Homo sapiens: one gene and its partner. The protein of the gene in region 2 purifies or fractionates together with the protein of the main gene of each other region. This does not show direct contact. Each region holds a gene or a part of one and is shown on either strand. Other genes may lie near its edges.

Evidence for each region.
Region 1: the proteins of TDP1 (region 2) and APTX purify together in Homo sapiens (affinity purification with mass spectrometry; one large-scale study listed by BioGRID and IntAct). This does not show direct contact.

The regions. Positions count from the first base shown.
Region 1 is NC_000009.12:32,994,888-32,998,708, forward strand, and holds part of APTX (aprataxin), read right to left. Parts: intron 2,462-3,821; exon of another isoform or gene 2,356-2,461; intron 1-2,355. UniProt on the Homo sapiens protein: DNA-binding protein involved in single-strand DNA break repair, double-strand DNA break repair and base excision repair.
Region 2 is NC_000014.9:89,979,758-89,983,578, reverse strand, and holds part of TDP1 (tyrosyl-DNA phosphodiesterase 1), read right to left. Parts: intron 3,040-3,821; coding exon 2,947-3,039; exon of another isoform or gene 2,900-2,946; intron 2,117-2,899; exon of another isoform or gene 2,019-2,116; intron 466-2,018; exon of another isoform or gene 303-465; intron 1-302. UniProt on the Homo sapiens protein: DNA repair enzyme that can remove a variety of covalent adducts from DNA through hydrolysis of a 3'-phosphodiester bond, giving rise to DNA with a free 3' phosphate.

The DNA of each region.
Region 1 (3,821 bases), on a different chromosome or scaffold from region 2:
GGCCCTTAAGAATTATACTCAGTCCACTCTGCCTGTGCTCTATAAATGGAACAACAAAGCCTGGACGACAGCATGACTGACTGAATATTTTAAGATCTCTGTTAAGAACTACTGCTCATAAAAAAAAGATTCCTTTCAAAATATTACTGCTCATTGACAATGCACCCAAGATCCCTGATGGAGATATATTATACAGGGAGATAAATATTGTTTTCGTGCTTGATAAAACAACATCCATTCTGCAGCCCATGGATCAAGGAGTAATTCTGACTTTCAAGTGTTATTAATTAAGAAATACATTTCATAAGGGTATAGCTGCTATCAACTGTGATTCTTCTGATGGACCTGGAAAAAGTAAATTGAAAACCTTCTGAAAAGGATACAACCATTCTAGATGCCCTTAAGAACATCTGTAATTTATGGGAGGAGGTCAAAATATTAACATAAACAGGAGTTTGGAAAAAGTTGATTCCAACCCTTATGGATGACTTTCAGGGGTTCAAGACTTCAATGGAGGAAGTCACTCCCAATATAGCAGAAATAAAGAGAACTAAAATTATAAGTAGAACCTGAAGATGTGACTGAAATGCTGCAATCTCATGATCATACTTTAATGGATGAGGAGTTGCTTCTTATGGATGTGCAAAGAAAACGGTCTCTTGAGATGAAATCTATTCCTGATGAAGATGTAATGAACATTACCAAAACGCCAACAAAGGGCTGGGTGTTATGGCTCACACCTGTAATCCCAGCACTTTGGGAGGCCAAGGCGGGCGGATCACGAGGTCAGGAGATCGAGACCATCCTGGCTAACACGGTGAAACCCAGTCTCTACTAAAAATACAAAAAAATTAGCCGGGCGTGGTGGCGGGCACCTGTAGTCCCAGCTACTCTGGAGACTGAGGCAGGAGAATGGTGTGAATCCGGGAGGCGGAGCTTGCAGTGAACCGAGATCGCGCCACTGCACTCCAGCCTGGGCGACAGAGCGAGTCTCCGTCTCAAAAAAAAAAAAAAAAAGAAATTGCCACAGACATCCAAACCTTCAGCAACTATGACCCTGATCAGTCAGCAGCCACCAACGTCAAGGCAAGACCCCCCCTACATCAGCAAAAAGATCACAACTCACTGAAGGCTCAGGTGACTATTAGCAATTTTTAGCAAAGTACTTTTAATTAAGGTGTGTACATTGTTTGTTCAGCCATAATGCTATTGCACACTTAACAGACTACAGTATAGTATAAACATAACTTTTATATGCACTAAGAAACCAAAACATGCATATGTTCACTTTATTGCAGTTGTCTAGAACCAAACCCACGTCTCTGAGGTATGCCTGTATGTATACCCTTCAAGTATAATATACTGAACAGCATCTCCCAAATAAATCGCTCTTTTTTTTTTTTTTCTGAGACAGGGTCTCACTCTGTTGCCCAGATTGGGTGCAGGGCGTCATCACAGCTCACTGCAGCCTCAACTTCCTTGGGCTAAAGTGGTCCTCCAGCCTCAGCCTCTGGAGTAGCTGGGACTACAGACACACACCACCATGCCTTGCTAATTTATTTTATTTTGAGATGGGGTTCTCACTATGTTGCCTACACTGGTCTGAAACTCCTGGCCTCAAGCAATCCTCCTGTCTTGACCTCCCAAAGTGCACGGATTACAGGTAGGAGCCACACCTGGCCTAAGTCATTCTTAATATGGTCTCCTGGTATTCCTTTCTCCTAAAACCCAAATCCTATTTAACTTTCAAGCCTCACCTCCTCCCTAAAGCCTTCATTGAGCTGTCTTCTCTTCTCTACATCTTATTATTGGATGTGGTCAAACTACCTTCACAGTTCTCTGACTGTTTAATGTGGATGTAATTCTACTTTCCAAACAAGATTATAATCTCCCTGCTAACAGACTGCATCACTGCCTACGCATTCACAAAACAATGAGGAGGGGTTTCGGGAGATCACTGTCCTGGGCCAGGCCTAGTCTTTACTCCAGGATCCCCCGGTTTTCAGCACCTTTATCAAGTGCATACTATGTGCTAGGCACTATGCTAAATGTCTTACTTACATGGTCTCATTTTAACACTCACAACTCCATTCTGAGAAGAGAAAATTCAGGATGAGAAGATAAGTAACATGTTCAAGTCACATAGCCAATATGTGCCAGAACTACAATTTGAATTCCAAAGAATGGGTTCTTAACCACTGCATCATATAACTTTTGGCTTCACTCATTTGATCGTTCAGTCAAAATTACTACACTCCTGTGTATCTTGTGCCATTCTAGTACTGGGAATAAAGAGATAATATATGAGCCCAGCCTTCAAAAAACTCAGCCTTAGCCAGGCATGGTGGCACGTACCTGTAGTCCCTGCTACTTGGGAGACTGAGGTGGAAGGATTGCTTGAGCCTAGGGGTTCAAGTCCAGCTTGGGCAACACAGCAACACCTCATCTAAAAAAAATAAATCTTGTGGAGGAGAAAAACACAAACAATTATGTTAATAGTAGATGTGGTAAACATGATGATTGCTCTGTGCAAAGGGTGGAAGCACAATGCTAGAGTACCCAACCGAGATTGGGAGGAAGGAGGTGTCAGGAAAAAATTTCCTGGAGGAGGTGGACCTAAACTTTATAACTGAGTCCCATTTATAAACTGGGTTAATTAGGTGAAAAGGAGCAGCCTAATTAGGTGAGGAGCAGGAGGTGGAGAAAGGAAACAGGGAGAAGATTCCAAGCAAAGAGAACAAGGGCAAGTACACAAAGAAGAAATAGCACAGTACCCATGAAGATGCCATTCAGTGTTGCTGGAACCTAAAGCATGAGGCAGAGAAGAGGCTGGAGATACAGGCAGGGTTCAGAACAGGCAGAGCCCTGGCTGAGAAGCTCAAACTTTAGAACTTTCAATGGATTTTGCAAGCCAGTAGACAATGAATGTTTGCTGAATGAATTAGAGAAAAGAATGGATGAATGCATGGACAGATCTTTAAAGATTAAGCAGGAATTTGATACAGACTTGTTTCCAAAGACCATCTGGGGGTGGAGGGGAGTAATGTGAAGAAAAGATATGGGGGAACAGGCCTAGAAGCAGGGAAATCAGTTAGAAGGCCATGATATTGCAGGTAAAAGGACAACAGTAGAGATGGAGAAGACTGCACAGATTTGAGAGATGTTTAGGGGGTAAAACTATCAGGACTTAGTGATGAATGTGATAAGAGTTAAGTCCAGGAAAGACACTGAGTTCAGTTTCAGTCATCTGAATTTGAAGTGTCTGTGGGACTTGCAGGCAGAGCTGTCCAGGAGGATAGTCAGATGTGAGGGTAAAGCTCAGAGAGGTCTAAGCTGACAATTTCAATTTGGGGGCATGTAGGAGGTAGTTAAAACCAAGCCAGCTGATGGGTTCACTCAGGCAATGTGTACAGAATGAAAAGAACAGTTTTCATTCTGAATGCTGGTAATATTATGTATCTGTAACCTAATCTGGATGGTGGTCACATAGGTATAATCATTTTATAAAAACTGGTCAAGCTTCACATCCACATGTATGTTTATTGCAGCACTATTAACAATAGCAAAGAGTTGGAACCAACCCAAATGCCCATCAATGATAGACTGGATAAAGAAAATGTGGCACATATATACCATGGAATATTATACAGCCATAAAAAAGAATGAGTTCATGTCCTTTGCAGGGACATGGATGAAGCTGGAAACCATCATTCTCAGCAAACTAACACAGGAACAGAAAACCAAACACCACATGTTCTCACTCATAAGTGGGAGTTGAACAATGAGAACACATGGGCAGAGGGAGGGGAACATCACACACT
Region 2 (3,821 bases):
TGTGGCTACTCTCCTTTTCCCCACCCTGGGTTCTATCTATTAAGCTGAAAGAGAAACTGCCCAATTTCTCTTTCACCTGGCAGCCCCTGAAGGAGACTGGCAAGATGCAGGCCACCAGGGCAGAAGGCATCCAGAACTGCAAGGACTCTCGGCCGTACATCTTCTCAACTCTGCAAGTTTCTAGCAAGGGGCATTTCATACCCCTGCTTCCCACCCTGGGGAGACACTTAGCACAGGAGGTAGCATGGTGTGATGAGGGCTGGAGCCCATGTTCTGGACCCAGATCGACTAGCTGACTATACCATTTTGGGTAAGCTCTGTGATCTCTCTGGGCCTTTGCCTCCGTGTGTAAAATGACCAGGTTGGGCTGGACAGACGTGGAGGACCTCCCCTTGCAATAGCACCTCAAAGTTCCCAGGCTGAGTGAGGCTCCTCCTGGATCAGAGATTCACTCACAGGTGAGTTCTGGATGAGAAACAAGACAAATGACTTTCTAAACTAAGATGCTGAGATATGAGGCATTTTTAACACATCACAAAATGAGAAAATTATTATAATGAGCCAAATAATTTTATTTTATTCTTTACTGTGAGCTTTGGATGCAACTCTTGTTCTAATTTTAAAAAGTGAGAAATCAACAGGTGGATCATGAGGCAGCTGAAGGGGATTAGCAGAACCACAGTAGACCAATTATGAAGTGAGATTGTATACAAAAACTGCTTTCAAAAGTTTTAAAATTACCACAAATAACATGAAATGCAAAACATTAGAGAGTAGAATATAGGCCAAGCATGAAATAATAGGATCCCACACCAGGATGGCTGCCAGAGGAAGATTTCATAGTCTTGGTACTTTCTGAGTTTTGAACCGTTCCTACCTAGTCAATAAGTTTTCCAAAATTTTAAATTAAAAAATACTTTTTTTAAATAAAAGAAACACCCAAGCCCTTATCCCTGCCTCTTCCCTCCTGGCAACCACCCCAGAGAATCCCAAGACAGTACTACTGCCTGTAAGCTAAGCTTCCAACTTCAGAAGGAGCTGGAGGCCCAGGGTGGGATTCTTGGAACCACGTGAGGCTGAGAGCTAACCTGAGAAATCCCTTTAGTAACATTGTTTCATGAGAACAAGCTACATTAATCTCATTGCCTTTTGATAGGGCCACATGAATCCCCAAACCCAATCTGGCAGCTCAGGAGAACTGGCTTAGAAGCTCTTGGGGTACCAAAGGCATAGTTAACCATAAATTCAGTAGATCAAGAAAGTGCTACAGCTGAGACTTAGAGACCAAGCAGCTATCCCCTCAACCCTGGACCAGTCAGAGCCACACTTCATTTTGAAAAGCATATTTTCAGTGGGATACTGAAAAATTATAACATGTTTATAGAAAAGCGACCAGGAATTACAGCTAGGGGTCTCAAAGCCACATGCTATGGTGGGGCAAGGGAGTGGGGAGGGAACAAGAGATGTAAGGCTCAGAAACAAGACTCCCTTTCAAACTCTGAAGGACTGCTTTAAGGGAGGGAGATTACATTTGTCCTGCGCAGTGCACTCAGGTTGAAGCAAGACCTGTTGAAGGAAACTGGAAAGCTATTTCAGCTCAAACTAAGATGTAACTTGGGGCCAGGCACGGTGGTTCATGCCTGTAATCTCAGCACTTTGGGAGGCTGAGGCAGGCGGATCACTTGGCAACTAGGCAAAACCTTGTCTCTACAAAAAATAAAGACAGTTAGCCAAGTGTGGTGGTACGTGCCTGCAGTCCCAGTTACCCAGAAGGCTGAGGTGGGAGGATCACCTGAGCCCAGGAGGTTGAGGTTAAAGTGAGCCGTGATCGCATCACAGCATTGTAACCTGGGTGACAGAGTGAGACCGTCTCAAAAAAACAAACAAAACAAAGATGTAACCTGGGCTCAGCAGAGCTTAGCTGAAAGTAATACACTCCAAATTAGGAGTTCTAGCCCAAGCTAGGCAATGATATGGGGCAGGGTGAGGCAGAGGAGGATGACAGAGAAAACGTGAACCTGGAAATGGTGCTAGACAAACGTCCGAGTTTCTCCCAACACAGAAGGCTGTTTGTTAACCAGCTCTTCTCTAGCACAGGCAGAGATGTACAAAATGGCTTAAACAAAAGAAAATTAAAGTTAGTCATAATCAAGAACAATAGCTGAACTTGTTGAGCAAATCCCTAAAGCTCCCTTTTAAAAAGCAAACCCCTCTTGAAAAGGGGATCAAAACCTGGATCTAGCATATGTGCACCAAGTACAGAGGGTTAGTAGTTTAAAAAGTTCATAAAAGCTTTCGTATTCAGTTCTTCTCTTGGAGATTCACAACTTTATTAACACACTAAAGGCTCTAAAAAGACACCAGCTTAAATTTGTTTCAAAGAAAATACACCAACTGGGGGAGTGGGGAAATATTTAGCACACTATTAACATGACCAGGCCCTACCCCAACTTTTCCTTTGATTCCTGTTTGGGAAGTGGTAAGCAAAAATACAGGTGGGTACATGAGTAAGGAGAAATCACAAAAGCTATCTGGTAAATCCTACTAGGAAAACAATAGGTTCAGATCTTTCATTCTGTAACCCCTTTTCTGCCTCAGATCTCTGCATGTGCTGTGCCCTCTACTTAGCTGTAGAGTGTATATGATGCCACTTCTCTAAAAACTAGGAAGAGACTACTGTGTGTAAATAGTAATGTATGTTTACATGTACAGCAGAGGTAGCTGTGGATGATGATGCTCCTGTTAACACTGGTTACCCCAAGAAGGTAGAATGGGGCAGGTAGTAAAAGAATACAGTAACTTTTTCTGCATACAACTCTTTTTCTAGGCCATGTGTGTTATTTTTACAACTTAAAAAAAAAATAGAAAAAAGAATAAAGTGAATGTTCTGGCTTTTGACCTTTATCAACACACACACTGCCAGGAAGTGAGCAGGCCCCTACGAACCCTTGAGTTTTCTGGTGCCAGTCAGCATGGATGAGGTTGGAGGTGTGTATGACAACCCGGAGGCCTTCTTCATAGAGCAGCAGCATCATTTTCCTTTAAAAACAGCAAAGGATCAAAAAGCATTAATAGTACTTTCAAAATATGTAATACCTTTCCAATGCAAATGTAATACATAGCTAAAGGAATTTTTTTAAACTCTCATATTACCCAAACTTAACATTTATAATCTTCCCTTCTATACATTACCATGATGAAAGTCTGCCTAAGTGATAGGATGAAAACCTTTCAGAAAGGTTGAGTATTTGGTGGTAAAAGAACTTTCAACCCTAGTGCCAGTCCTGGCACTTCACATCCCTCCAGCCTGGCCCCTTATTATCTATTCAGCATTACCTGTTACTACTAGGGACCGTTGGAACCTTCTGGTCTGGTGTTTGAGATTCAAAGTATGGTCAACAACCTCTTGCTGCATCATGGCTGGCATTTTTTAAACAACTAAAATAGCATAAATTGGTATACTGTATATATTTAATTACTGGTTCATGAAATTTTGTTTTGGCACAAAGGTATGTTAGTGCACAATACACTGAAATGTAAAGTGTATTTCTTATTATGAGTTGAAATTTTAAGAAGTTTAAAAGATGCTTCATTACCATTAGTGGTTTTTTGTATCCATAGATGCCACACTTGTCAAAAGTGTGTTATCTGGGCTTGGGGTAAGTCTTGCCTATTCTTCATTAACCCAAATCAGACTTAGTGGGGTCCACTCTTTTTCCATGTGACCTCCCCAGGCCTCTAGTCGAACACATTTCTCTTATTTTAATTGCAGTGAGAGAGAGGGAATAGGATATAGATAAAAGCTTTCCATTTGAAGTCTG